Regions from separate parts of the Homo sapiens genome. Here region 2 is linked to region 1. Evidence: fine-mapped QTL for protein levels in blood plasma. A gene starts in region 1. The other region holds a variant in brackets. All regions are shown on one strand. Distances are between the middles of the regions.

Region 1 (15,851 bases):
CCTCTTCAGGCCTGACACATTCCCAGCTGGTAATGATAATAACCAGCTTAACTTTGATAGGCCCGGTGACCAGGAGAGGAGAGGCACACAGCTCCTAATTTGTGAGCTATTGCCTTGTGGGGAAAAGGCCTCCCCAGTATCTCTTCACAGTGCCAGCTCTCGTTGAAGAAAGTGGGGCCACTTCTGCAAGGCCATGGGTTCAAAAGAAGTCTGCAGAGTCAAAACCTTCAAGGACATCTAGCTAGATGTCCACATCCCATGCATCAGGTCCCAGGTTTTCTTAACTAGAGCCTTGACTTCGGAAGAGCAGATCTATTTCAATTGAGCATTTAACCATCATTGAAATTCAGCCACTCTATCCAACTCTGTGCTTGGTATTCATCTTTTCCTGCTCACCCACTAATAAGGTTAGGGCTTCTTAATAATCTACCAAAAGGAGTCTCTGGATCACATACTCAGCTTTTTCAATTATGTTCATTGTCCTCAGCTTTTCCTTATCTACCCGTTGGGCATAAAACAACCAAGTAGCAACCATGCAATTTCATCTCGTTATGTTTATCACCCCAGCCCCCATACCTTTCAATATGTGAATCATCACACTGGCTTGTGCATTCACCTCTACTAGCATGCTGGCCTACCTCACTACTAATGAAAATTTCAACAGACTACCACCTCTTGTTAGAGGTTGCCAGCTTGCCACCTACCTCATTTCCAGTTGGGTAGTGAATAATCCAGTCCCTAAATCTCATCTTGATGCCTGTTTTCCTGGAGTTGTCTTGGTATCAGCTATTACAAGCTGGGTTTCAGCACAGCAAATACTTACACAAAGTTAAAGTACAAAAGTTTATTGAAAAGTAACACCTGTTAAAGAAGAAGGAAAGAAGCAGGACTGGGCAGGGGCAGCTGTCAGACAGCAGTGACAATCTGACAAAATTTCTCCCAGGCCAACAGGGAACTCTGAAATAAATACTACTTGTTAGAGAAATCCATATTGAGTGGAAATAGCTAGACTCTTGTATCATCACCTTGCTCAATCATTGGCTTGGGGGCCACTGGGAAAAGAACATGTTCTTGGCTTGAAAGCTGAGGAAGGCCCTGACAAACCTATCAGTTAGACTGTCAGGTTGTACTAAGCATGTCCTTTTTTTTCTGATGCTTTCACATCTGCAGCCTTATTGACCCTGGAGGGACTGCCCCACCCAGGGCTAACTAATTCCTAAAGATAGTAAATGACTGCTTAGGACTAGCCTGTCACATGCAAGCCAACCCTTACCACCTGCCTTATGGAGCCCTTATACTCCAAGCCACTATTAGGGCCTTGCCCTAATTACTCCAGGGCCAGGTATCATGCAACTAATGACAGCCCCTACACCTGAGAGCCCCTGAAATTATTCAAACTAGCCAATCCTAAGCCTGCTTACCTTATCCCACCTGTTCCTTACCACAGAAACAATGATAAAGGCTCTTCCTTATAGTACCTTTTTCACCCCTTTCCTTCTGAGTGACCCTGGTGCTTCACTGTGTGGCATGGTGTGCACCCTCCTCTTGGGAATTGTGAGTAACAAACTGTCTTTTCATTGACAATCTTCTCCTGATTGCTTAGCCTCACCATACCAAAATAAAAAACAAATCTACAGTTAAAAGACAGATACTCATACTCTTTGCAGTTAAGCACCAAGCTTTATCTTGAAGAAGGATCTGAAGGATATCTCCATGTCTGCTATAAGAGTGAATTTTGTAACAGCTGAAACACAGTTGCAGTATGCAGAAAGCAGTGACGTTTTATTTACTCACTGAATAATTCAAAAATTATTCAAATAAATTATTTGAGTAATTTATATAAATTATTTAAATTATTAAATGAATGATTAACCCCATGCCACATAGGGATGACAGGCTCTGAGAACATAGCAATCCTTTCTTTTGTGGACTCTATTGTCTACTGTGTAGACAAATTTCAAAAAAGTGTGCTGAGGCCAGGCACAGTGGCTCACTTCTATAATCCCAGCACTTTGGGAGGCCAAGGCAGGAGGATTGCTTGAGGCCAAAAGTTTAAGACCAACTTAGGCAATATAGCAAGACCCCATCTCTACCAAAAATTAAAATATTAGCTGAGCATGGTTGTGCACACCTGTAGTCCCAGCTACTAGGGAGGCCAAGGTGGGAAGATTGCTTGAGCCCAGGAGTTCAAGGCTACAGTGAGACACAATCATGCCAATGCACTCCTGCATAGGCAACGGAGTGAGACCCTGTCTCAAAATAAAATAAAATAAAAAAGTATACTGAGTGTTGTAATGAGTATAAGAGGAGAAGTAAACTGATGTTGGATCACACTGCAGAGGAACCAACCTACCCAAAGAGAAAAAGCCTACAAGTAGGCCTTAGTGATCATTCTGATTTCGGAACTAAGAAAAAAAATTATTGAAAGAGGTAGGAAAAGATAATCCAAGCTAAAGGAACAGAACTGGAAGGGATAGAGAGACAGCATATTAAAGTAACTAAAAGAAATTCAATGGATAGAGTGTAGAGTATCAGAGGTATGGTGGGAATAAGCATGAAAGGTGGGCAAGGGCCAGATACTACAGAGCGTTGCCACCCATGTTAAGGAGAACAGATTCTATCTTAAGTGTACGGGAAGCTATTGAAGAGTTTTTAAAAGAATAGTAACATAATTCAATTTGTAATCATCATTCTTGCAGCTGAGTAAACCAGAGTGGGAAAAGGATTAGAGGCAGAAGGGCTAATCAGAAGGCTGTGACAGTAATCAAGCTAATGATTACAGTGGCCTGGAGTCATGTGGTGGCAGTGAGGATGAGAGGGAAAGAAATTGGTTCAATAAATATTTATGTATATAGGGCACCAAGAAAAGAGATACAGTCAAGGATGACACCTTAGTTTGTTAGGTTTCTGGGATTCAAAACTGGGTGAATGGGAGTGGACTTGTGGAAATAGGGAATACTGGAGAAACAGGTTTAGAAAAACGAAAGAAGAAGACGTGAATACAGAGCACAATGAAAAGATTAGGCTCCCAAGGGATGAGAAAACCTCTTCTGCTAAAACAGGAAGAATATGGGCAGATGGGTACAGATCTGTAGACATGATAGCAGGAAGTGGAGGGAGTGTCCATCTGAAGGCTTCTCTTTTGTTTTTCCAATAGTAGAAAGGTAAGTCATCTGTTGAAAGCAAGTGCAGTGAATAAGGAATGGAAAATTCATACTGGGGAAGAGTAGAAAGATTTGAAATGGTTTTAATAAACCCTATGCTTGACATTGACCAGGGAAACCTAGCTGTATTGCTAGGCAGTATTGAAGGGCCAGCTAAGACCAATAGTCATAAATTTATAATGTAATAATTCTTAAAATAGATACTATGTAGTATCTATTTTAATACATAGTAGTATCTCTTTAATAACAGAGTTTATCAGCCAGACCCTCCAGTAGGTGAAATAATGTATGATGTTGCATACTAAATGTATTATATTTATGTGCTCTGATTGCTTTTCTCATTGTGGAGGAAAATTACAAGAGTAAAATTTGTGAATGCATGCAGGAAAGTGAAAATTACTCATCATATAAGAAAACAACTCTATGCAGCTCAAAGGGGACTGATGCAGAGAACTTAGGAGAGGGGTAAAGGATACACACTTCTTTCTTATTTTATTTTTTTTTTTCATTTCTTTTTTTTTTAATGTTTTTTTTTTATTATACTTTAAGTTTTAGGGTACATGTGCACATTGTGCAGGTTAGTTACATATGTATACATGTGCCATGCTGGTGCGCTGCACCCACTAACGTGTCATCTAGCATTAGGTATATCTCCCAATGCTATCCCTCCCCCCTCCCCCGACCCCACCACAGTCCCCAGAGTGTGATATTCCCCTTCCTGTGTCCATGTGATCTCATTGTTCAATTCCCACCTATGCGTGAGAATATGCGGTGTCTGGTTTTTTGTTCTTGCGATAGTTTACTGAGAATGATGGTTTCCAATTTCATCCATGTCCCTACAAAGGACATGAACTCATCATTTTTTATGGCTGCATAGTATTCCATGGTGTATATGTGCCACATTTTCTTAATCCAGTCTATCATTGTTGGACATTTGGGTTGGTTCCAAGTCTTTGCTATTGTGAATAATGCCGCAATAAACATACGTGTGCATGTGTCTTTATAGCAGCATGATTTATAGTCCTTTGGGTATATACCCAGTAATGGGATGGCTGGGTCAAATGGTATTTCTAGTTCTAGATCCCTGAGGAATCGCCACACTGACTTCCACAATGGTTGAACTAGTTTACAGTCCCACCAACAGTGTAAAAGTGTTCCTATTTCTCCACATCCTCTCCAGCACCTGTTTTTTCCTGACTTTTTAATGATTGCCATTCTAACTGGTGTGAGATGATATCTCATAGTGGTTTTGATTTGCATTTCTCTGATGGCCAGTGATGATGAGCATTTTTTCATGTGTCTTTTGGCTGCATAAATGTCTTCTTTTGAGAAGTGTCTGTTCATGTCCTTCGCCCACTTTTTGATGGGGTTGTTTGTTTTTTTCTTGTAAATTTGTTTGAGTTCATTGTAGATTCTGGATATTAGCCCTTTGTCAGATGAGTAGGTTGCGAAAATTTTCTCCCATGTTGTAGGTTGCCTGTTCACTCTGATGGTAGTTTCTTTTGCTGTGCAGAAGCTCTTTAGTTTAATTAGATCCCATTTGTCAATTTTGGCTTTTGTTGCCATTGCTTTTGGTGTTTTGGACATGAAGTCCTTGCCCACGCCTATGTCCTGAATGGTAATGCCTAGGTTTTCTTCTAGGGTTTTTATGGTTTTAGGTCTAACGTTTAAATCTTTAATCCATCTTGAATTGATTTTTGTATAAGGTGTAAGGAAGGGATCCAGTTTCAGCTTTCTACATATGGCTAGCCAGTTTTCCCAGCACCATTTATTAAATAGGGAATCCTTTCCCCATTGCTTGTTTTTCTCAGGTTTGTCAAAGATCAGATAGTTGTAGATATGCGGCATTATTTCTGAGGGCTCTGTTCTGTTCCATTGATCTATATCTCTGTTTTGGTACCAGTACCATGCATTGTCTCAGCCCAAAATCTCCTTAAGCTGATAAGCAACTTCAGCAAAGTCTCAGGATACAAAATCAATGTACAAAAATCACAAGCATTCTTATACACCAACAACAGACAAACAGAGAGCCAAATCATGAGTGAACTCCCATTCACAATTGCTTCAAAGAGAATAAAATACTTAGGAATCCAACTTACAAGGGACATAAAGGACCTCTTCAAGGAGAACTACAAACCACTGCTCAAGGAAATAAAAGAGGACACAAACAAATGGAAGAACATTCCATGCTCATGGGTAGGAAGAATCAATATCGTGAAAATGGCCATACTGCCCAAGGTAATTTACAGATTCAATGCCATCCCCATCAAGCTACCAATGACTTTCTTCACAGAATTGGAAAAAACTACTTTAAAGTTCATATGGAACCAAAAAAGAGCCCGCATCGCCAAGTCAATCCTAAGCCAAAAGAACAAAGCTGGAGGCATCACACTACCTGACTTCAAACTATACTACAAGGCTACAGTAACCACACTTCTTTCTTTAACAAGATTAAAGAATGCCTCTAGTCAAGATGTTTCTTTGGCCTCCTATGGTTAAGTGCAGGTAAAAAAAAATTACTTGTAGAAAACATAAGAAAATAACTGTCAACATGAAAGCCATCACAGGTTGTAATGAGTGTTGTATTTCTTAAACCATGTTTGTATGAATGCTTTAGGAATAAGACCAATTTGTAGAAGCAAAAGAACATGCCAATCTAAGCGGGGCGGGGGTGGGGGCAGTATTTTGGAAACATCCAGGACCAGTTTCAAATTGTATGAGCTCTCCCCTACACACACACACACAAACACACACACACACACACACACTGCCTTGGGAACAAGTACTCTACGAACTACTGAACATGACAAGTGCTTTACATTTATTAGTTCATTTGATTTGATTTGACTAAATGTAGTTTTTGCAACTCTATGAGAATGGTATTTTAACTCAATTTTTACATGTTAAAAAAACTCTCAGGCTTACAGAGATAAATAATTTTCCTGACCTTGCTGGGTAGTAAAGAGAAGAGTCAAGATTTTACTTAAAGTGTACTCTAACTCCAAGGAGAATACTGTTTCTACTACATCATGCCTTCTGAATAGACAAATGCCTTTGAAAAATGATAGAATGTACTTGTACCTTTGCCTCCAACTACCTGCATGTCATAAGCCACAAAATTATATTTAGCCACACTTGCAAAATCCAATTATTACCCAATTTTAAAATTTACATTTATAACAAATATAAATACTTGCATTTAAACAACATTTATAGCTTTCATATGGTGAGCACCTCCATTATCTTTTTTTTTTTTTTCTATTTTTACAGTAACTCTGTGAGGGAGGTCATGACGAATATATTGTCTACCATAGCCATATGACTGTGCTTTCCTGGACTTGACGACTAAACAAACTTCAAATTCAGAAAAACACTACTGGCCCACACCTTCTCAGGTCATCTGCTTTTTGGTTGTTTTTTTCTGCTAATATTGTTATGACGGTTACATTGAATGATTCATACTTCCTTCTAAACGAAGTGTGTTAATACACATTTGCAGGGAAATATGTCCAGAGTTTAAGATTTCATGGGTCTCTTAACCACACTCTCTCTCCATCAGCAGGCAAAAGAACCAATCTTAATAGTTCTTACATTGCATAGTTCATCTTCCAGAAATATAAATGATCTCTGCTATGTCCCTGAAAACTGTTCCTGTCATTCGTTCTCAGTCTAGCTGCCTTGGTTTTGTGACTGTTCAACCAGAAGAATAAAATCAGCCTGTAACCAGAAGGCAGAGGACTCTTATATTTTTTGTATAACGTGATTCTACATTTCTCATTCATGCAATCTCTTAAAAAGAGAATAGGTCAAGGCCTATCCTGCCACTCCCTGAGGATCTAAAGATGAAGAGTCAACATCTTTAAACTGGTCCCTGTTATGAACAATTCCTTTGCCTCACAAACCATAATTTCCTGCCCCACCTCCCTTTCTGCGTTGAGCTCATCATGCGGGAAGTCACTTTCAGACTGAATTCAATTTTCCCCATGCCTTTCCCCCGACTCATCCCCACGTTCTGTTGTGAATAGTAATAGGGCACTGGGATCTGCACTAATACGTTAATTATGAGACATCTAAACAACATATGATGAGTAAGTACCTACGTGGTAAAAAGGCCTTTGCTGCTGAGTATTCCAGGAAATAAAGACATACAAGAAAGAGCATGCATAATTAGAGAAAATTTCTGTAAGCAAAAAACAGAAAATAACACTTTAAATCCTAGTAAAAATTATTAAAACAAAAGTATAATTTTATAAGCCATTAAAATATTTAAATCACTTGGCTCAATAAGCCTCTTCAGTTTATTCTGAAGAAAAATTCAACTGTAGGATGACAAAGAAAAACTATGTTTGTGAAGGTGGTCATTCAAAGAATCATCTACAATAAAAAAATAGAAAATGTCTAAATACTTCACATTAGAAAATAACTTTGGTGCTTTATGATAAGTCCATTCAATGTAATGTGATTTACCTTTTAAAATGCAACCATTAAAACTGCTAATAATTAATGAATCTTGGTACCATATTTGTGTTTTAAATTATATAAAAATACAAAGTTATAAATATATAGCTACTAAAAATAAAAATTAGTAATAGCGATATATTTGTGAAATAATATTAAGTATAAAAAGCATAATACAAAATTATATACCATGATATAACTATATTTAAAGGTACTTGAAGTTAACATGTAAAATTTAAAAATGGTTTGTTTAGGTAACTTTATTTTTTAAACTTTTAAATCTTATTATAGTTATTTATTTATTGCTAAAAAATCAATGGCAGAATGTCAGGCATGAGATACTGTATGTAAAAAATATATTTCCCAAATATATTTGGGAAAAAACATATAAGTAACCACTTATTCCTGTCTCTGTTGTTTGATTTGCACATTATATAGAAAAAGTCAAGTAACTGAACACATCTGAAGTTGCAGTATTGGAGTAAATTTAACCATTAGTTGTCAGTGCTTTACAAGATGAAGTCATAGAATTTTATAATTGAGAGTCCTCTAAGACCTCCTGATTCAGCTTCCACTTTTCTTAGTAGATACATGTGACTTATGGAGAAATAAGTAAATTTTTTCCCTTAAGCTACACAATTAGTTGGTGAAAAAGCTAAGACTAGAATTCATATTGTACTACTAATAATATTGTAATAATTCTATTACAAGTTCCAATTCTTTAGCATTCATTAGTTCTCACAAAGTAACCCCAGTATAACCTTCCAAATTTATATCCTGCTTCTTTGCAATGTTAGACAGGAATGCCCTTTTTCCCCTCCCTGCTAGTCTTGCCTGTTTTCTTGAGCTCTCCATCCTTACCCTAACACCCTACACACTCATACTGTCTTCTTCTGTCTGCTCCTCTTCTAGTAGTAGTGTGTTAGAATAGCTTTTTCAAATGATCATATTTGGAAAAAAACAAAGTGGATTTTAGTTCCAACTATTCTGTTTGCTTGTCTTACTTTGTGCATCTACTCAATTATGCTCTGTTTCATATATTATGAGAAAAACTGCATTTAATCATACAGATGAGGGAATTCAGAGGTAGTGCCCATTAATGTACGGAAAGTATGTTCTGATGGATCTTGGCTGGCTGTGTTGAGGAATGAGGTGTATAACAATATGATAACATGAGCAAAATAAGTGTCAAATCCTCTTGAACTAAAAGTGACTCTACAGTTGTGAAGTAGTCACAGGCTTTCACAAAATACCTGTCAATTGTAATTGTGTTTAATCTCAATTTACCAGAATAAATAAATTTCTTACTAATTTGTGAAATTCCCTGTCTATTTCCAATTATCTTCCACAAGTCATACTATTGGTTTGTTGATTCCCTCAAACTTGTTTAACAAGTTAGATTTTAATTAACATGAGATTTCCTCCTTTGTCCTCAACTATAGATCACACGTAATACATGAGAGTCATTCATTTGAGTGGGAATCTCAAAGCAGTTGAGTAGGCAGAAAAAAGAACCTCTTCATTAAGGATTAAAATGTATAGGTAAGTCCTGTTTTTGTCTTTGTAGCTTTAAAAGTTTTACTATATCTTACAGTATGGGAAAAATATAAAGAAGCTTAGCAAATTTTGACTGTGTCTAGCAATCTTCTAGTTACTTCTCTGAAAACTTCATCGAAACTCTTAGATATTGTTTAGATAATATGCTTGATATTATTTTCATAAGGTACATAGTTGCTTAACTGAATTTTTTATAAAACAACCACAAAAATACTTAGCTTAGCGTTATGACAACATATCTTTAAATAAGGAAGTGGTTTTGTTTCTCATGTGCAACATTTCGAAAAGTGGTGTGTGGATTTTAAAATTGCAATCAGTAAACAATTCTTGTGTTGTTTGGAACTTTTCGAGGATTCTGTGTTTTGACTTCCATTACAGTTTTATTGCTAGCTATTAAATAAATATGCCATAAATCCTAAAGTACACTTTTAGAAAGTAAAGACGGTATTTTTCTACTTTTTATATAGTTGTAGAATTATTTTCAAGAAAGTTCTTGCTAACATTTAAGAGAAAATAATCTCTCTCTGGTTTTCTTTTTAGTTAATGAATAAGTATTTTCCTATACTTTCACATAAAGAAAGAAAAAAGTTGTGAGATAATCAAGTCACACGTTAACATCTCAAAACAATGAAATAATTATGTAACTTGGTATGTTTATGTGTGCACTTAAGTGTATATATTATGCATATTATTTTTCTATGACTACAGGAAAACATGATACTGATAAGTCATGCTGAAAGGATCAACAAAAGCATGAACAATGTGTTAGCTATAATAAGTGCAGCTGAATTTATTTTAAATCTCCTGAACATTGGAAAATTCAATCAAAAGTCAAACCATTTTAAGTAATAAAAATATATATACAGTTATATGCACTTGAATATATATATATGAGTGAAAAGTGGATAGCTGTCTAAGCTTCCAATGATAGAAGAAATAAAATCATTTCATATTCATGTAATAGATACAAGAAATGTATTAAAGTAGCTTAAAAACCTATGAAGTAATTTACATACTGAGTTTGTTCTTATTTTATGTGAAAAAAACAAATCACAAAATTGTATTTACTCATCAACTACTACTTTGTAAAGCTATACATGGGAGAAAGTCTAATAAAGAACATAGAACATTAATCAGGTTTGTTATACTAAAGCAGTGAGTTTATGAATTATATTTTTTATTGTTCTTAAACCATCTATAAGTGTAATATTATTTGGGTAATATAGTGCATTTTAAAATGTATTTTGCTGAAATATTTTAATTTTAAAGAAATTACTCTGATTTTAAAATATTGCCCTTATAAGCAGTCAAGTGTATATCAAAACATCATTCAATGGAAAATAATAAAAGAAGACATGTAAATGATACAAATCCTGAAAGAGTTGTACAATTTCAGAAGGCTTTGAATCAATCAAATTTCTAAGTTGATCCATCATTGTACAGGAAATTTGACACTCAATCAGAGCCAACCTTGCCAATTACAAATAACTCTTCTGTGGAATTTTGGTTTCTAAGGATCACACTTTTTGGAATATTTTATCTCTTTAATAGCCTGTATCTACTACTAATAAATAGCAGCTAGGTATTCATATCAAATAACAGAAGGAAAATTAAATTGTACAATATACTTTTTTTAGGTAATTGTAGGTAATTTTGGCATAATTTTAGATAAATCTTCAGGTAATTCTGAAATACTTTTGGTTGAAAATTGGCTGCCTTGGATGGTTTGATTGCTTTTTTTATAAAAAATTAAACTCCCAGCTCTCTTCCATGCTGCTGCAAGATGAAATGCTCCTTTCTTTATCTACCTTCTTCCCTTGTCTGAAGAAGGAAATCCTACCGTAGGGCCCAGGAACCTGAACAGCTGTGTTACTCATTTCAGATCCTTGGTCACTCTAGATTTTCTCAGGTTCACCAAGGGAATATCTGTGCCCACCAGATTACAGAAAACGTGTGAGATGAGGTTTGGGAAATAGGATAAAGATTTATAAACTGGAATTTGGAATGTAGTTTATGGAAAGATTTAAGGTAAATGAGCATATCTCAGCTCAGGGACAGACAAGTCTTAGCAGGACTCCTCCTACCAAACAAATCTTGTTTCCATTTTCTTCCCTTTTGTCTGTGCTCAAGACATGATTAACTGACTGCAGAGACATGCCAAAGACAATCAGATGCCCTGCCTCCCAACAGTCCAAAAGAACCTGAGACAAAAGTTGGCGGGGGGACGAGCCATCGCTGTCAAAAACGCATTCCAAATCCTGCCTGTTGTTTCAATCCTGGTTTTTGAACTGCTATAGGAACTCAGAAAAACATGCTTAAAATTGTAAATCATTAGGCAAAGAACATATTTCTTCATAGAAATTAGGCAGGTGGACACCAATTTGTATTTACAGTCATGAAGCCCAAAATAGTGCATTTCTAGTACAAGTTGTTGCCTATAAAATCTTGAGCCACATGCTAAAACAGCTGCTGCATTTGGCCCAAATGTTTTTCTAATGATGGTGTGGGACGGGCCTGCATACAGGAAGATCAGCTGCAGTCAGTCATCTGGGATTATATATTTTCTAGCAAATTATCCCATGCCACTGCCAACTTGTCTTCCAGAAGGCACTCCCAATCTATTTTCTCAGTAATTCATTGCTTACTTAACACACTACTGCAACTCCCAAATTGCTATGACTGGCACCCCTAAAATAAGTCATAAGGAAGGGATTCATTCAATATTTACTGCTGTAAGGGAACCTACAGTTATCCAATCCAATTTCTTAAAAGGTATTGCTCCCATTTGAAGGATCCCATTCTTTTGAGCAAAGAAGACTTGGCATGATTTCACAGTTTTGGGGAGTATTCCTTCTCTAGCTTTAGTATATGCTCATGACATGTAAAACAAAAGCACCATCCCAAATCTAAAGTCATTAATTGGATAACTGCCTAAGATAGTTGTAAATAAAAATGGACTTTGGAAAAGTTTATACTGATGAGTCATTCAGCAGAAAGAAAAAGCAGATTCTATGGAATATTTACAATATCCATTTGCCAGAGGTTTGAACAAGCGTATCAATGATTAATAAAATAATATATGCACTCAGGGCTCAAGACAGTGGAGCAATAAGTCATTGATGGGCATGGTGGTACAAGTATTCCCTGTATTCCCTGAAGGCCGAGGTAGGAGGATCACTTGGATCCAGAAGTTCAGTGTTGCAGTGAGCTATGATCATGCCACTGCACTCCAGCTGGGGTGACAGAGCAAAAACCTGTCTCAAAAAAAAAGATTAAAAATTATAAATAAATAAAAGCCACCGAGTATATTTTTCCTAAACTAGACAAGTTTTTATTCTGACAAGTTTACTTCTTAGCCAAGATATCTACCTGAATTTAATAGTGCAAGAATAAATTAAGATGTAATGTTTCCTTCTCTACTGAATATTTGTCAGCATAAAGACACGCCATACTATCCCCAATTAAAAAAAAATCCCTCCCTTGACCCATATCTCCTGTCCAGCTATTGTGTCATTTCTCATCTCCTGCTCTTAAAAGCAAAACTATTCTAAAGATCTGTCTAAACCTATTGCCTCTATTTTTATTTTCTTCCTCCATTCTCTCCTTTTGCTTTTTAATTTTTTATTATTAAACACATCACATTTAAAGTCTAATTTTAAAAAGTGAACCTCTTGGTACGAGACATCTATTAATAAAAATAGCATCACCAGTATCTTAGAAGACCCCATGGGCACCTCCTGTCTACGAACTGACCTTTCCCCACCTTTCACAATGTAACTGTTACGTGGCATGGTATCTTAATTTCTTTCATTTTCTTCATGGTTTCACCATTCACGGATATATTCCTAAAAAACTTATGGTTTAATTCTACCTGCCTTTGAAAGTCATATAAATGAGATCAATATTATATATGTTATATACAATAAAGTGTGCATAGCTTATTCATGTTCATAGCTGTATAATATTTCTTTGTAAGCCTGACCCATAACTTAAATATCGACTTTTCTAGTATATTGCCATTACAGATAATGTAGCACTGAATAGTCTTACACGGGTCCAATGGTACAAACATGCAAGAGTTTCTCTTGGATATGTTCCTAGAAATAGATTTTCCGAGTCACATGGTATATGCATTTTTATCTTTAATCTATCCTCCCTTTTCCCAGTGCAAATAGTTTCTGATCTTCACAGCTCTGAAATAGCTCTTGTCTTGCTCCAAATTGCAAAATCCAGTGGTCAGATCTCAGTGAGTTTACATAATCACTCCACCAGAGACCATTCTTTTCTTGAAACGTGATCTTCACAAAGCTTCCAAAACACCATTCTTTCCTGGTTTTTTGCTTATCCCATGGGTCAAACTTTCTCAGTTTCTGTTACTAGATTCTACTAATTTTCCTGTCCCCAGAGTTTAAGTGCTTTTCTTTTTTTTTTTTTTTTTTGAGAAGGAGTCTCGCTCTGTCGCCCAGGCTGGAGTGCAGTGGCCTTATCTGCAAGCTCTGCCTCCCGGGTTCATGCCATTCTCCTTCTTCAGCCTGCCGAGTAGCTGGGTCTACAGGCGCCTACCACTGCGCCCGGCTAATTTTTTGTATTTTTAGTAGAGATGGGGTTTCACTGTGTTAGCCAGGATGGTCTCGATCTCCTGACCTCGTGATCCGCCAGCCTCAGCCTCCCAAAGTGTTGGGATTACAGGCGTGAGCCACTGCGCCCAGCCTTAAATGTTTTTCTTCTTCTTACATTCTGTGTGATTCCACCAGTCTCATGGTTTGCAATATTACATAAGCTAATGATTCCCTAGGACATTAGGGAATGTCCCTAATGTCCCTTAAGTCCACTGTCATTCACTGGAAAACACAAAATGCTCTTACTTCAAAGCAACTTTTAATATCATATGGCAAAATAAACCATTTGAATCCTAAATATCCTAGTGCTTTATTTCTACTTATACATCTTTTATGATATATATAATTACTCCATATATGTTTTTTGAGACAGAGTCTCCCTCTCTCCCCAAGGCTGGAGTGCAGTGGTGCAATCTCGGCTCACTGCGACCTCTGCCTCCTGGGTTCAAGTGATTCTCCTGCCTTAGCCTCCTGAGTGTAGCTGGAATTACAGGCACGTGCCACCACGCCCAGCCAATTTTTGTATTTTTAGTAGAGACGGGGTTTCACCATGTTGGTCAGGCTGGTCTCAAACTCCTGACCTCATGATCTGCCCACCTCGGCCTCCCAAAGTGCTGGGATTACAGGTGTGAGCCACTGTGCCTGGCCAATTACTCCTTATATTATACTTTATTCATTCATTCATTCATTGAGTGTCTAATTTGAGTGAAGAGCTGTTAGGTGCTAGATATACAGCACTGGAACAAAAAGGCCCAGACCTTTTTCTCATGGTGCTTGCTGGGAAGACAGACACTAAAATACATTAGACAAATACCTATCTAATTATAGTTGTGGTGCTATGAAGAAAAGTTTAAGGACTTTGGGTAATCAAGATAAATGGAAACAACCATCACTGAAAACATTTACTCTGTGGAAATCTCAGTAGAGCAAAAGGTAGTCTTTACTGAAAACTACAAACCTTCCAATCCAAAAGACAACTGTTCCAGTGATTAACATGGAAATATGTAATTTCATTATGATTTGTTTAATACGATGACACTGAAATAAGTATTATAATAGTGAAAACTAAACCAGTCTAGAAGCTCATGGAAGACTTCTCTGAGGAAGCATTGTTTAAGCAGAAACTTAAAGGCAGGCAAGAAACAGATCATGCTGGTTTTTGAAGACTATATTAAGAATCTGGCATTACATCCTCAAACACAAAATTGTTAAAGACATAGCAGGGCAGAGATGTTACTACATTAGAATTTTTTTCTTTATAAATTACCCCGTTTTCATTTTTTATTATACTTTAAGTTCTGGGGTACATGTGCAGAATGTGCAGGTTTGTTACATAGGTATACATGTGCCATGATGGTTTTTAAAAGATGATTCTAGCTTCATATAGAGAACAATCTCTGTGGAGAAAGGAGATATCTTTTGATGAAGGGAGACTAGTTGGAGCCTAGTTCAGTATTTCAGGAAAAGGATAAACGTGGCTTGGATAAAGTGGTGGGACTTGCAATACAACTTGAGATATGTCTAAGAAGTCGAAAGAACCAGATTTGACATTCAACTGGATGTGAGGGATGAGAGAGGTGTCAAGTATAATTTTCAGGTTTTTCACATGAGTAACTTGGTGAATTTTGGCATCATTTACTGAGAAAGAAAATGCCAGAAAAGGGCCTATTTGACGGGGCAAAGGAAGGTTGTGAGAATCAGAAAGAAGATGATCAATTCAGCTTTGCAAATGCTGAATTCTAAGCACTGAATAGAGATATGTGAAAGATACAGCTGGATATTGTAGTCTGAAAATCACGTACAGATCAATGTTTCTCAGGCGTAATTTTTGGTTTATCTCTCTCTGAATCCCCCAGGCTACTTGTATAAAATGCAGAACTCTGAGATGCAAGACCAGACCTACTGAAATAGTCTGGGTGGGTACTGGATTCAGTACAGGAATTTGCACTTTTCCAAGTCTTCAAGTAATTCTTACGCACACAAAAATTTGAGAACCATTGGCTTAGATGGTAATTGAAACTGACTGAATGAGATCAACTAGAGAAAGGAGAAC
Region 2 (15,851 bases), 340 kb before region 1:
CAGAGGTATAAATGGTTGAGGCAGAGGTATAAATGGATTATTTCTAAAGCTGGGTGGAATGTTGAGGCAGAGGTATAAATCGCTTTAAAGTCACTTTCCACTTTAAAATTCTTTGAGGTTTTTTTTTCTTAATTTTGCAGAGAAGACTTACTATTATCAAGGTGATTTTCATATTTCTGGAGTCACATACAATGATAATTGTGAAAACGCAGCTTCACAAGCCAGCACAAATCTAAGCAAAGATATTGAGACTAAGGTAAATCAGAGATTTTTAAAATTAATTTTATTATAAATTTGATTGAAACATACATGATGACTGTTTTTTTTCTCTTGTCAGATGTTAAATGCATTTCAAAATTCCAGTATATATAAGGAATATGTCAAATCTGAGGTCATCAAACTTCTGTAAGTACAAGTTCATTTAAGATTTTATGAAAGGAAAGTAGGTGATATATCATACAACCTTGATTTTAGATAACAATAACAACAAAAAACAAACATAAAGAAAAAGAGAAACAAAGGAAAGGAAAGAAAGAAAGGAAGGAACGAAGGAAATAGAAAAAAAAAGAAAAAGAAAGATCAAGTTCTCCATGAATGAAAGTATCATTGTATCTAGCAAATTTCTGTTCTGGGCAAGAGTCATTATATACAAATCTTTAATCTTATACCTGCAAAAGAATTATAAGGTTATTGGTGGTGGTCAGTCCTAACTGACTGCTATGATGAAAGATAATTATAACTCCAGGGAAAACAAATAATTCAACTGGTTTGTTTTTAGCCCATACCTTCCCTAAAAACATCCTATTTTAGTTTCCTTAATAATTATCATCCTTACAATGGCTGTGGAACAAAGACAATATTTTAAGACAACATTTGTCTAGACACACCTTTGAAGGATGCCTGAAGATAGTGGTGGTAGGGAGGGATGCAGGGAGGAGGGTATAGTGTATGGGGGAAGAGTAATGAGGGTAGAGCCCACTTGTAATTTGGTAATTGTTAATATCAGTTCTGGGGAATTCTGAACTCTCAAAACAAAACAAACAAAAAATCCAGCTGACCTAACCAACCTACTTACCTACAGACAAACAAAAACCTTCAAAGACCCTAGAATTGATCATAATTATTTGAAAGTGAAATTATGGATATTTTAACAATTCTGATTGATATGGCTTTGGTTTGAAAGTCTTCCAAAATGAATTAATCTCTTTTCCTGATTAATCAAAAGAATGTACTGAATATATAATCAAGATGTCCTTCATGCTTTAGAATTCTCTTTCTGAGCTTTTTCATTGTATAGATCTGTTGGGGCAGACTGGTTATGTATAAAAAAACCGTAGGAAGAAGGTTAGCACTGGCTTCTAAATACATGCTGGAAATTGTCTTTTGAATGCTTCCCTGCCCTATCTTTATTTTCTCATTTATCTCTTTCTATAAAATGAAGTTATTAGAAAAATTCTTTATGAGAGCACTGGTTTTTATTGTATTATAGTAAGACTTCATGCCAATCATTTCTTGGCCAGTATTCCATTTCCCATAGTGTTTGAAATATTCTGATTTTAGTTTGTGGTCTATATTTTCTTCCATGAATAGCACATCTGAACTAGACGTACTAGAAGTTTTTTTAGATATCTTTGAATTTTATACATGCTTAGATAGTATATGTATATTTTTCTTTAATATATGTAAAGAAAATGTGATAATTAAAATGTGTGAAATTTAATGTGTTCACAAAACCTCTAAAAGATCAAGAAACAGTACATTAGAAAATTTCTGTTGTTTCTAGGCCTAATGCCAATGGTTCAAATGTGCAGTTACAGCTGAAATTCAAGTTTCCTCCAGCAGAAGGAGTTAGCATGAGGACTAAAATCAAGGCTAAATTACATCAGATGTTGAAAAACAACATGGCATCCTGGAATGCAGTTCCTGCTTCCATTAAACTCATGGGTATTTGACTTATTTCCATTATTTTCTATTACATAGGTTTTTTCTGGATTATTTTTTTAAAAAGTACTAAAAAGTGAACTAAGAGTTTTAGTAATTCGGGAAAAAAATATGCGTACCTAACTCTGGCACCCCTAGCAATGACTTGGTAGTGGAAAGGGCAGTGCCATGGAATCATTGTCTGAAGAATGATAGGAATGAGGGTTACACTGCAAGCATGGATGTAAGTTTGGAAGGGTTTGGCTATTATGCATGGGAAAGGGGGTGAAGGGTTCTAATTGAATTATCTTCTTGTTTTTTTTTTTGAGATGGAGTCTTGCTCTGTTGCCCAGGCTGGAGTGCAGTGGCGTGATCTCGGCTCACTGAAACCTCTGCCTCCCAGGTTCAAGCAGTTCTCCTGCCTCAGCCTGGGACTACAAGCATCCGCCACCACACCTGGCTAATTTTTTTGTATTTTTAGTAGAGACAGGGTTTTACCATGTTAGTCACACTGGTCTTGAACTCCCGACCTTGTGATCTGCCCACCTCGGCCTCCCAAAGTGCTGGGATTACAGGCATGAGCCACCGAGCCCAGGCAAAGTATCTTTCTTTTCTACTCCTTGCTTTTGTCAGGATCTCATGACAGAAAGCAGATTTAGGGCTTTCTTGGTCTTTCAGTAAGGAGACTGCAGGAGTTAAGAACAATGTTAGGGATGGGAGTTCTTATTGATTTTTGTGAAAAAACTGGAGTAATACCACTTTTAAAGAAAAAAATTGTCTGGAAAATTCCCTAGAAAACAAGGGAATCATGAAATTTTGAGAACTTAAATTTAAATCTTTTTCCTATTGGTAAAAGACTTTAGAGGGAAGGAGAAGAGGAGGAAACTAAAGAAACACTAGAAAATGCTGAGTATACTCTATGGGACACAGAAAGAGAGTAAACAATCTATCCCTCTTTCCCAAAAGCTTCTCACAGAAAAATGATAAGATTTTGCCTCCTTACAGAAAGTGAAGTTTGTAAAGATTGTGAAGGTTTTGCAAAGGTCTTGAAACTGTCACTTGGATTGTTAAAAGTCCAGCTAGGTGATAAGCATATGATTTCAGAGTCCAGTTTCATGGTTCTTCCAGCCAGACAATTAATCCTAGGGTCTTCGAGGGCTTGAAAGGCCAGCAACATCTGCCAGTTACCGCTCTTTTGCCACACAATAAAGACCCCGTTACCAGTGAACCACTAATAAGAAGGGAACCTGAGGTAGAACTTTTCAAGGGAGCAATAAAATTTTTCTGTGAGTAGCTTTTGGGAAAGAGGGATACGTTGTTTACTCTCTTTCTGTGTCCCATAGAGTATAGTCAGCATTTTCTAGTGTTTCTTTAGTTTCCTCCTCTTCTCCTTCTCTCTAAAGTCTTTTACCAATAGGAAAAAGATTTAAATTTAAGTTCTCAAAATTTCATGATTCATTCTTAGTAAGGAGATTTCCCTAAAGAGCAGGATGGGCTCAGTGAAGTATAATTTTAATTGGGACATTTTTCCTTAAAATATATATAATTCTGAGCATTTCAGAGTAAAGAGAATTATCATGGGAAAGAAATCTCTATCATGATCTCTTAAAAGTATTTGTAAGGGGGAGGGGGGAGGGACAGCATTAGAAGATATACCTAATGTTAAATGACGAGTTAATGGGTGCAGCACACCAACATGGCACGTGTATACATATGTCACAAACCTGCACGTTGTGCACATGTACCCTGAAACTTAAAGTATAATAAAAAAACAATTTGTAAGGGTGCCAGCTTCTTACAGCACTGAATATTTTACTTCAATAATCATAAAACTGATTTTTGTTTTTTATTCCCTTTTCTCTTTTTCTAGGCTACCTAGTAGAGATATGGAGAGATGGTTATAATGTAACAAATAAGAGTCAGAGGGGCTGAAAATACCTGAACTACTCCAAATAGTTAAATGTTGGACAATATTGGGTTAGGAAAGTTAGCATTTATGTTCTTAGGTTGAAGTCAATTGCTTGGTGATATTTGCTCAATTTTATATTTTGTTTTGTTTTTCACTTTCAGAAATCAGCAAGGCTGCTTCTGAAATGCTTACCAACAACTGTAAGTTAAGGACCTTTTAATTATAAATTTGATGGACTCACAGGTATTTTCTCATTATTTTTCTATTAAAAATACTTGAAATATGTCATGTGGAAATCCCATAACACGCTTTCCGAATTACTAGATATACCAGATATTGACTTAGAATTTCTCTTTGAAAAACACTGGTCTATTAATTTTAACATTTATTAAAAAATATATAAAAAGTTAAATGAAAATTGATTCCAAATAATAAAACTGTGAGTGAAAAATATCATATTTGAATATGTTAAAATGAGAAAGATTGAAGGAAATGACAATTTAGGATAAGAAGAAAATATAAAACCAGGCTATATAAAATATATTTATTAAAGATAAAAACAGTTCTGCATCTTAAAAATTATTATTATTTTTTGCTTTAGAGGTGGGATGTTGCTATGTTGTGTGGGCTGGAGTGCAATTCACAGGTGCAATTACAGTGGACTATAGCCTGGAACTCTTGGGCTCAAGCAGTCCTCCTGCCTCAGCCTCCCAAGTAGCTGGGCCTATAGGAGCATATCGCTGTCCTGTTACATCTTTTAAATAAATTCTCTTTAGAGTATCATGTTTTCCACAAGATACATTTATGCATTCATTCACTCCATGGATATTTATGGAGTATCTTTTGTTCACATGGTGTCTTACAGACAGCAGTGCATATACTATGCAAGATGTAGACACCAATGAGGCAAAGCTCCTCCTTCAAGAATCTGCTTAGAGAGACAAGAGTTATAACACATAGACACAACAAAAAATAGTGGTTGAAAGATGCTTGAGACTGGAAAAGAGGATAAGTAAGAACCACTCAAACCAAGATAGAATACAGAAACATCACAGGAGTATCTTGTAGGAAAGAAACGTCATCAATTAGGAGAAGTTGAATAATCACTGAAAGGTTTCAAGTAATTTTTAATGATATATTTTTTTATAATGCGTAATCAAAGATACCTGCTCTCGTGTAAATAAATCCTTTCTCTAGGTTGTGGGAGACAAGTAGCCAACAGTATCATAACTGGCAACAAAATTGTGAATGGAAAAAGCTCCCTGGAGGGGGCATGGCCATGGCAGGCCAGCATGCAATGGAAAGGCCGTCACTACTGTGGAGCCTCTCTGATCAGCAGCAGGTGGCTATTATCTGCAGCTCACTGCTTTGCTAAGTAAGTTTGAAAATTTGACTAAATGAAGGATGCTAGGTGCAAAACTATTTTGGATAGTTTGTAGGGGTTAACTTAATGTGTCAAGGTTCACCAAGGCCATATGAAATTTACAATCACATAGAACATTTACAATCACCTGCGTAATTAAAGAGCAGGAAAGGAAATGCATTTAAATTAGAGAAAGGAGAGAAAAGCAAATAGAAGTATTAATTAACATTTTCCAAATAGGTACCTTGGCCTGACATTAAGTGCTTTACTTAACATCATTTCATTTAATCACAACATTCAATTCTGTATGGAAGGTATAGTTAAAACCATTTGAAGATGAGGAAACTAAGTCTCACTCAGGAAAGGTGACAAAACTTGGCTAAGATCACTCAGCTCTTTTTTTTTTTTTTTGAGATGGAGTCTCAATCTGTTGCCCAGGTTGGAGTGCAATGGTGCGATCTCAGCTCACTGCAAACTCTGCCTCCTGGGTTTAAGCGATTCTCCTGTCTCAGCCTCCTGAGTAGCTGGGATTACAGGCACGCACCACTATGTCCAGCTAATTCTTGTATTTTTAGTAGAGACGGGGTTTTACCATGTTAGTCAGGCTGGTCTCGAACTCCTGACCTTAAGTGATCCGCCTGCCTCAGCCTCCCAAAGTGCTGGGATTACAGGTGCGAGCCACCATGCCCAGCCTAGTTCTTAAATAATAGAAACTGAATGTGAATTCAAGTGTGTCTGACTCCAGTTACTAGGTGCTTCCTTGTCTTGCCATCCAGAAGTTTATAATCTAGTTGAGAAAATTTAAATGTCATATATTAAAAGTACGAGGCTGTATAGTATTGTAAACATGACACGTATTACAAAGATAGTAAGTACGATGGAAATTTGAAGAAAGACAGCATATCCATCTGACGTAAAATTTAATCTGGACCCAAAAATTGAGTATATCCAAAGGAAGATAAATTGTTCTACCAAAAAGCCATATGCACTTGTATGTACACCACAGCTCACAATAGCAAAAACATGAAATCAACCTAGATGCCCAGCAACGGTGAACTGGATAAAGAAAATATGGGTCATATACACCATGGAATACTATCCAGTCATAAAAAAGAATAAAATCATGGCCTTTGCAGGAACATGGATGCAGTTGCAGGCTATTATCCAAACTAAATGAATTAATGCTGGAACAGAAAACTAAATACCACATCTTCTTGCTTATAAGTGGGAGCTAAACACTGAGTACATATGGATACAAGGAGGGGAACAATAGACATTAGGGCCTACTTGAGGGTGGTAGAAGGGTGAGGGTAAAAAAAGTAGCTATTGAAACCAAGGGTATGTGGCAATAAGACTAATCCTGGACCCCATCCACTTACGGAATTGAGGACGCTCATGTGATTCCTGACCAAATTAAATGTTCAGAAACTGGATGGAACTGAATAAGCAGGGGAAAACATCAGTGACTCTACTTGAAAAGATCTTCAGAAAGCTGACAAATCTGAGTCCTTAGCATTATTTTTAAGTGACTGCAACATTTACAACAGCTCCATGTCAAAGATAGTTTTCAAAATAGAATTTCAGTGGTTTATAGTTTTGTTTGGGAACCTCATGCCTTAAAATTATGAGATAATCACCACTAAGAACAGTGTTGTGACCCAGCAACTGAGTGTATTCTAATTACATTGTGTCCTCTAGGAAAAATAATTCAAAAGATTGGACTGTCAACTTTGGAATTGTAGTAAATAAACCATATATGACACGGAAAGTCCAAAACATTATTTTTCATGAAAATTATAGCAGTCCTGGGCTTCATGATGATATTGCCCTTGTGCAGCTTGCTGAAGAAGTTTCTTTTACAGAGTACATTCGTAAGATTTGTCTTCCTGAAGCCAAAATGAAGCTCTCAGAAAATGACAATGTTGTAGTTACAGGTTGGGGAACACTTTATATGAATGGTAAGTTTTTTTGTAAAATCATAATAGCTGCATGGGAATAACTATTTAATCAATCAATCAATCAATCAATCAATCATCCCCTCATGCAATTAATCAATCAGTAAATATACTGAAAAGAAAACCAAGTGGTGGGACAAAAAGCATGATGTCAAATTGTCTTCACTTCCTAAAATATCTCTGGGAATGGGAATTGGAAAAATTGAAATTATGTGTTAGGCAGCCAACTATTACAAACACCTGAAAGAGACTAATCTAACCTGGGACTGGCCTGACTCTTGGTGACCAAGAGAGTCTGCTTTATGCTATAGGTAGATATTCTTTGTCCCAGCAAAGTCTAAGATCTGCATAATATGCAGCACTTATTGCTTTTAGGTTCATTTCCAGTGATACTTCAAGAAGACTTTTTGAAGATTATTGACAACAAAATTTGCAATGCCTCATATGCATACTCTGGCTTTGTGACTGATACAATGTTATGTGCTGGATTTATGTCAGGAGAAGCTGATGCATGTCAGGTATGTCTAGTTACATTATCCAGTTGTTTTCTCCCAGTTAATCAAATGGAAGTTTTTATCCACATAAAATTTTTTTTGTGTTAATAATACTGACATAGTAGCTTTGTATTTCAATACACTAAAAATGTATTAATTCCATTTATGTACCAGACACTAGCCTACATGCTAGGGACGTGGAGGTGAACACAATCCTGCCCTCACGAAGTTTTCAATCTGGGAATTCATACAAAGAATAACACTTAGAAGAAGTTTACAAGATGAATTTTGTCCTATTTTCTGGGCAACCTGCAGACCTAGAATGTTGTCTTCTCTTTATCCAGAGATGCATCAGGAGTCTGGGCACATGCCTATGCCACTTGTTCCTCAGAGGCTTCATCATAGAGACTTAAGCTCAGTGCAAGCAGCTAAGTCACCTTCTCCATATTCAAGCTGCACTCATTATATAAGTCAAACTCTGGTTTGCTCAAGTCAACATTTGGCAGTTTTAGGCCATATATTCTGGTTTGTAGCTGTCTTGTGTTTTAAAAAAAAGTCCTAAGGGTTTCAGAGTTCTAAGCCCAAAGAGAGTGAATTGGTTTCAGTGCCCAGGAGGTACAGATAACTCCACAGGAGAGGTAAAAGGAAATTTTTTGTTAAGACAAGAAACATTTTTTTCTTTTCTTCTTCTAGAATGATTCTGGTGGACCACTAGCTTACCCTGATTCCAGAAATATCTGGCATCTTGTTGGAATAGTAAGCTGGGGTGATGGATGTGGTAAAAAGAATAAGCCAGGTGTCTATACTCGAGTGACTTCTTATCGCAATTGGATTACATCCAAGACTGGACTCTGAAAAAAAAGGAATTATACAAAGGAACATAAAGACCACTGTAGGCTATCCTTATCTGTGGCTTTGGGATCTTTTTATTTTGATTGTTGGTAAACTAATCATTTTATTATATATAAAAATATAAATGTCTTTATTAATATTTTATTATATCTAAAACACTGTCCATGCATTTATTAATCTTTTAAATTAATGTAAGAGATAGGAAGAGGCCAGGTGTAGTGGCTCATGCCTGTAATCCTAGCACTTTGAGAGGCCGAGATAGGCGGATTGCTTGAGCCCAGGAGTTTGAGGGCAGCCTGGGAAACATGGCTAAATCCGTGTTCAAAAAATACAAAAATTAGCTAGGCATGGTGGCGTGCACCTATAGTCCCAGCTATTCAGGAGGCTGAGGTGGGAGGATTGCTTGAGCCCAGCAGGTTGAGGCTGTGGTGATTTGTGATTGCGCCACCACTGCACTCCAGCCTGGGCAACAGAGTGAGACCCTGTCTCAAAAAAAAAAAAAAAAAAAGGAGAGAAGAAAATAAAGAAGGCTAATATATAATTTTTCTTAATAGCTGAGTTGTGATTCATTTTACCATTATATTCAGAATTGACCTTAATTTGTTTTCCAGAATCAAAAGAAAATAAAATATAAATTTTGAAACTATGAGAACATATATAGGGGATTTATCAAATGAGTTACTTTTTATTATATCAATTATAATTTCATTTTATTAACTGGAATAAGTGCGAAAGTGTACATTACTTTTTAACTTATATGTGAAATGATTCATGTACCTCACAAAATCATGCAATCTTGCAGTGAAGAAGGAGTATCAGAGCTCCAGCTACACTGAGTCTTTCAATTTACAGATCAAGAAACTGAAGACCAGAGAAGAGAAATGATTTGGTTAAAGTCACTCTCCATCATCTGTGATAAGTTGACAAATTTATCCTTACACAAATTTGTCCTCATTGAGTTGACATCCAAAATTTGTCAGGAATTAAAGAATGACTTTTGAGTGGCAATTATTTATATAACATTTTCCATTGTCTTCATATTCACCTTTTGTCATTTGTTTGCTTTCT[C/T]TTGCAGCAAAAATAATATGAGGTCATCAAGGGCAGAGAACTGTGTGGCATCTCCTTATAGTAAAAGTGCAATCATATGGATGGCTAACTTTGTAATCTCTACAAATAATTTACCTTATGTAATTTTCCAAATGTAAAAGTCACCAAAAACTTAAAGGCATTAAAATAAACTAAAAAAGTACTCATTTCTTCATTTGTTTGTGGAGCTACTCTTTTATTCTTTATTATAAAGTATGGCTCAAATGATATGCATATTGACATCAAGCAAATCTATAACCATCTGTGACAAGATGGTGTCTTTCTCTCCTCACTTCTGTTTCAGGCCAGCCACATGTATTTATTGAGTCCCTAGTGTGTTTCAGGAAATGTCAGGTATAGATACAATGTCTTCCTTCAAGGATACCACATTTAGTGAATAAAGATAGGCAGTAAACACATAAATAAGATAATTTTGGATTACGATAAATGTTATAAAGGAAATAAAAAGTAATGTGATAGAAAATGATGGAGCAGATAAGCTATAATTTAGATTGGGAAGTCTGAATGACATCTCTGAGGGGGTAGCCATTTGAGCTGTACCTAAAGGATGAAAAGCCAAAACATGGAAAACATATGAAAGAAAAGATATCCAAAGGGAACAAGTATGAGATCCAGAGAGAGAGAGAAAAGTGAGGTGGATATGTGCAGCAGAAAGAAGGCCAATGTGATTGAAACCCCATGGATAAATGAGAGATGGTAGGGGAGAAGATGGAGGAGGTAGATGGGGGCCAAGTCAAGTACCGCTTGGTAAGCCATGGTAAAGACCTTGAATTTTCATTCTAACTGCAATGGGAGGCCCAGGAGTTTTCCAAGCAAAGGGAGTGAGATAATCTAATATGCACTTTGAAAAGATTACATAACTTTGATGAAGAGAATGGGCTGGAGTGGGGGTGAAGAGCACAGAATGCAGGCAGACTGGTTAGAAAGCTACTGCAGCTGTCCTAGTAAGAAATGAACACATATTCATCCTTTTCCTTGGGCTAGGAATATGCCTTGGTAGGATAACAGAAGACATCCTTTTATAGTGCAACCCAAAGTAGAACAAAGTTTAATATTACTAAGAGGTCAAAGGTATTGCAGGCTGTATAATGATTTCCTTGTCTTATAGATAGTTAATTCAGAAGTCAGATGTTTACAAGCATTTAATTTATCCCCGACATCATGAGTTGAATCACAGTCTGTCCCTTGCTTCTTCCAGAGGGAAAACAAATGGAACTGAATGAGTAATAACCCCAATATGGAAGAAAGAGGAAAGTGATTGGAAGGAAAGGGTGGACAGGAATTTGGAGGAGGATGGGAGATTGGTGGAGGAAGAGAATTTGTGAGACTAAGGGGTCCATGAGAAAGAAATGAAGCGTGAAGATTTCTCAAGATTGAGGCTTCCTGGTTGAACAAGGAGGGATATGATAGCATGAGTGGCCAATCTCCAGGCTTGGTGTGGAGGTAAGGAGCAGGTGGGGCAAGTTGCATAAGGTAAAGCAGTTATTATTCAGCCAAAGGTGGATTCTTTATGGGGTGCAATAGTAGCCTTTACTTCAGTCTTAACAACTTAGAATCTTCACTTTCATATGGACTGTATGTGTGACGGATCAGCTAAAAGTAAGTGTTTTTTTTTCTTTTTGGTAGTAATAGACTGCGCCATCCTGGCCTTCTGATGTTAACAGCACATTGAGAAGTTCACACAAAGAATTAGAGGTCTGCCTTGAGAAATAAAACCAACAACACTAATCACAATGCATGAAAATTAAAATGCTAAATTGACAAAAGTATCATTATTTGCATTACAAAATTAGTCACCATTTTATTAAAAAGTAAAAGATTTTCTCAAATAAAATGCTTTTACTACTCATAAGTGGTATGGAAAAGAAACCAGAGATGAATGATTAAGGAGATATTTTACGCTCCCCCCATTCCCCAGCTAAGCAGAACAAAACAAAACAAAACAAAATAAAACAAAGAACAACTTAGACTAATTTAATTATTTCTTCCTGTTTTTAAGTAGGGGAAGTTGAAGTCCATTTTGAAGGAGTCCATTGAGCAAGAATTTGAGAAAGAGCATACCATTACTGACTAGCGGGACCACAGCTATTAATAAATGTCCATATGTTCTTGAGAAACATAAAAAATTATGTGTTTGAAATATGAAACTGTTTGTGATATAAGATAGGGATATAGTCTTGTGCACTATGAAGCATAAGCCAAGATCTTTTTGTGAATGTAGTGCTAATTAAAATGGCATTTTTTTAAAGATTGAAAAAAAAATTAATGCCATATATGATAGCACAAAGTTGACAAGGTTGTTCCCTCCTTCTTGTGAAGCCTCCAATTAACCAACCAGTTTAGGCTTTAATAAGGAATTTTTGAAAGTGACTTCCTTGTTCAAGGATTGTGTCTACTCTAGAAACATCTCCAACTTATCAGTGTATGAGAACTCTTTTTTAACTCATAAGGCAGTATTTTGTTATGCAACACAGACTTTCATATTAATGCTTTCAAAGAATGTTTTCACTGAAAATGAATCAGAAAAGAAGAGACGAAGTGATGAAAAGTATCTAAAAATGTTTTTAGGTTTATTTTTAAAAATTTGGTCTTAGAGGCAGGGTGCGGTGGCTCACACCTGTAACCCCAGCACTTTGGGAGGCCAAGGCAGGCGGATCACGATGTCAGGAGAACGAGACCATCCTGGCTAACACAGTGAAAACCCCGTCTCCCCTAAAAAATACAAAAAATTAGCCAGGTGTGGTGGCGGGCGCCTGTAGTCCCAGCTACTCGGGTGGCTGAGGCAGGAGAATGGCGTGAACCCCGGAGGCGGAGCTTGCAGTGAGCCGAGATCGCGTCACTGCACTCCAGCCAGAGCGAGATTCCATCTCAAAAAAAAATAAAAAATAAAAATTTGGTCTTAGATATTGGTCTAATGGCTCAAAGCCTGCTAGAAGCTGTTTTCCATTGACTGGAATTTTTATTTTTATTTTTTGGCATACCTGAAAATATCTTCATGTTCTCCTCATTGAGCTTGTCATTTGCCATTTGTTATGACTTAAATACTGTGATCAGTCATGACATCTACACTCACTGCCCCTGCCCCTATCTCCCCATTCACTATCTAGCCCGGCAAAACCACAAACACGGTTCAGTCCAACTCTTCAACTTTTTAGTGCATGTACCATAGTTGTTGACTGTAGCTGGAGAAAAACACACATCATGCTGGCTACTCTTTAAAATCTTAGTCATGAACCTCAGTTATATCCTTAATGCTCTTTGAAAATCCCTTTGCACTTCCTTAGCCAAAACTCCCTCTTATTCTCCTAAATAACTCATTCACTTCTCTCCTGCTCTTAACTCCAACACTGTCTTTTTCTCCTCCTTACACTCACCTGATGATCATGCTCATTGTTTCACCAAGAAAACAAGAGGAACCAGATGAGAGTTTCTACTGGCACTTATCATAAAAATCTACAAATCTACTTGCTTCTCAAAGGGCAGTATAGGTAACTGAACTTGAGCTAAACAGCCTTTGTGCAAACGCTGGTTTGCCATGTACAAGATGGGTGACTTTGGGCAAATTATTTAAAATCACTATGCCTCAGTTTCTTTGATGTGATATGGGGATAAGAATGATATCTACTTCATGGTGTTGTTTTGGAGTATTCAAGGAGTTAAAAGTAATGTACTTAGAACACATAGCAAATGCAAGATAGATGTTAGCTGTTATTGTCATCTATCCTCCTTTTTCTTACAATGGATTAACTGTTTGTACACCACTCTAAGGCCAAACTCTCCCCTTGTGCTAAGAACCCATCTGTACTCACCTTCTCAAAGATTTTATTTCTATAACTGTTGCCCATCCCTGTTTATGTCATCAATTTTCCCCTCTATACTGGATCATTTCCATAGACACAGTAACTTCTGCAATATCTTCCAGATAAAAACATACTTATTTTTTAACCCTACATCTTCTCCTGCTATGTTTCTTTGTGAAACTAGTTCAAAGTGCTGTCCTTACCTCCTTTCCATTCATTCCCTCTCAAACTCACTCCAAATATTGACTCAGATGTTCCTCCAAAACTGCATTAGTCATGGTCACCAATGAGTTTCGTGTTGCCATTCCAATGCTCAATTCTCAATTCTTCCTTTAATTAATCTATCAATAACATTTAGCATTGTTGATCATTTTTTATGGAAACACTTTCTTTATCTGGCTTCCAGAAAAAAAAAAACATCTTTTATGGAAATCTTTCTATGTCATTAGCAATTTCTTCTCAGTTTTTCTGCTGGATCTTCCACATCTTTCCCAACTTTAGATGTTGGACTGTCCCAGAGCTCAGGCTCATATCTCTCCTCTTCTCTACTTATACTCATACCCTAAGTGATCTTATCCAGTTCGATGACTTTCTTTTTTTCTTTTTGAGACAGAGTTTCACTCTTGTTGCCCAGGCTGGAATGCAATGGTGTGATCTTGGCTCACTGCAACCTCTGCCTCCTGGGTTCAAGCAATTCTCGTGCCTCAGCCTCCTGAGTAGCTGGGATTACAGGTGCCTGCCACTATGCCCGGCTAATTTTTTGTTTTTCTTGTAGAGACAGGATTTCACCATGTTGGCTAGGCTGGTCTTGAACTCCTGACCTCAGGTGATCCACCCACCTCAGCTTCCCAAAGTGCTGGGATTACAAGCATGAGCCACCACACATGCCAGTTCAATGGCTTTCAATACCAACTCTCTGCCTCCACTTCCAAGTGTTTTAATTGTAGCTTTAGAAGTCACTGTTTTGCCATCTCCCTGAACCTTCAGTGGCATATCTCTAAAATTTCCATGTGAAAATCTAATAGGCAGTTTCTATTAGTATGTCAAAATAGAATTGTTCATCTTTTCTCAGTCTTCTACATTTCAAAAGCATGGACGTGGAATCATCCTGAGTAACAAATATTTGAAATATTATTTTTTGTTAATTTCATTATTGGATTTTGCATAGGATAGAGTTAATATACAGCTGGACTGGGAAAACTCTATCCTTTTCTTTGGGAATGCTTTTCTTTGGGAAAAAAGTTGCTTAGCTTTGGCTCTTGGCCAAAATAAGTCCAGTGAGATTTATGTGAGGTTTAAAGTCTGAAACTCTCCTAGCAACCTCTGGGCCATTTTGTTTTACTGACCCAAGATCCTACTGAGAACTTCTGCCTTGAGTGTTCATGAAGTTGAGATTCATCACACTGATTTTGGTGGTTCAATCTGGAGACAAAATGTGTGTATGTATGAATAAGGACCATGGGGCATTTGCACCTCTATATCTCTTGGCTCCCCTAATACTTGCCTATACTCTTTCTCTTGCTGCTTTGCTTTCTTTACTTATTTTTACATTTTTAATTGATATATAATTGTTTCTACATATTTTGGGAGTACATGTGCTATTTTGATACATGTGTACAATGTATAATTATCATATACTTTACTTTTAAATAAAAGCTTTATATGAGTACTCTGTGTAGAGTTTTATAAGTCCTTTCAAAAATTCAAACTTGTGAAGTATTTGCAAATTTTAATAATTAAAGTGAAGCAATGATGTGCTGAATTTGGCTTGCAGCAATGTACAAGAACTGAGTGTTAAAACTTCAAGAATCATATGAGCCAGAGTGAAACAGCGATAGTTAAAAATTAAAGGCAGTAAATACTCAAAATGCATTATGTCTTCATTATTTTACATTTTGTTAGTATTCATGGTCTTGAGATTATTTGCATATGTTGTGTCTATATGATGGTGATATATAATAGAATGCTACTGCTCATCCTTGCCTAAATTCATAGTTAGTGATGTCATGTACATAGCTTGAAATTGACCATGATGTATTTACACTGTGGAAATTGGCAAACGTTTTTAATTAGCTCCCACCCACTGGTATCAAGACCTCGTTGTTAGACACTAACCCCACACCACTGAATGTAATTATTTCTCATTTATATTTTTGAAAGAAATCTTCACTAGATGATGCAACTGGAGCACAATTTCTGTGCCATAACATTACAAACTAGCTTTTGGCCATTGTGCCAGATGTGTTGTTAAATGCCCTAAGTACTGCCTGCTACTGATGGTGGTGAATAAAGTTTCTTATTGGTTTTTATTTTTCGTAATTTCAATGCAGGAAAAAGTTTCAGAAGAATCTGTTTTTGAAACATTTCATGATGATATGTGTTAAGGGCATTTCAGACTTACAGTTCATAGTGAATAATGGATTTCAAAATAATCCAATTATATTAGAATAT

Alleles and levels. Alleles are on the strand shown, and positions count from the first base shown. The strength of an association depends on the size of the effect and on how common the allele is.
For the plasma level of the protein whose gene starts at base 9,088 in region 1, allele C in region 2 goes with a higher level than allele T (moderate association).

The links. A credible set is the group of variants that fine-mapping cannot tell apart. PIP is the posterior inclusion probability: the model's chance that the variant is causal. Protein levels are from antibody-based Olink assays in UK Biobank. Linkage for the fine-mapping came from a reference panel and not from the study's own genotypes, which makes the PIPs less certain.
Region 2: its variant is the best candidate, but not a certain one, in a credible set for the plasma level of the TMPRSS11D protein (UK Biobank, PIP 0.68).

What each region holds. Positions count from the first base shown.
Region 1 is chr4:67,877,239-67,893,089 of GRCh38, reverse strand. TMPRSS11D (transmembrane serine protease 11D) reads left to right here and starts at 9,088. Exons shown (of 10, transcript NM_004262.3): 1 at 9,088-9,164. The coding sequence starts at 9,157.
Region 2 is chr4:68,220,556-68,236,406 of GRCh38, reverse strand. It overlaps TMPRSS11B (transmembrane serine protease 11B), which reads left to right. Exons shown (of 10, transcript NM_182502.3): 3 at 141-256; 4 at 338-405; 5 at 1,784-1,944; 6 at 3,991-4,029; 7 at 5,027-5,204; 8 at 6,891-7,150; 9 at 7,523-7,665; 10 at 8,335-9,754. The coding sequence ends at 8,496. Among named protein-coding and RNA genes, the nearest start is that of TMPRSS11B, 17 kb to the left of the region's middle. The variant C/T (reference allele first, on the strand shown) is at 9,562.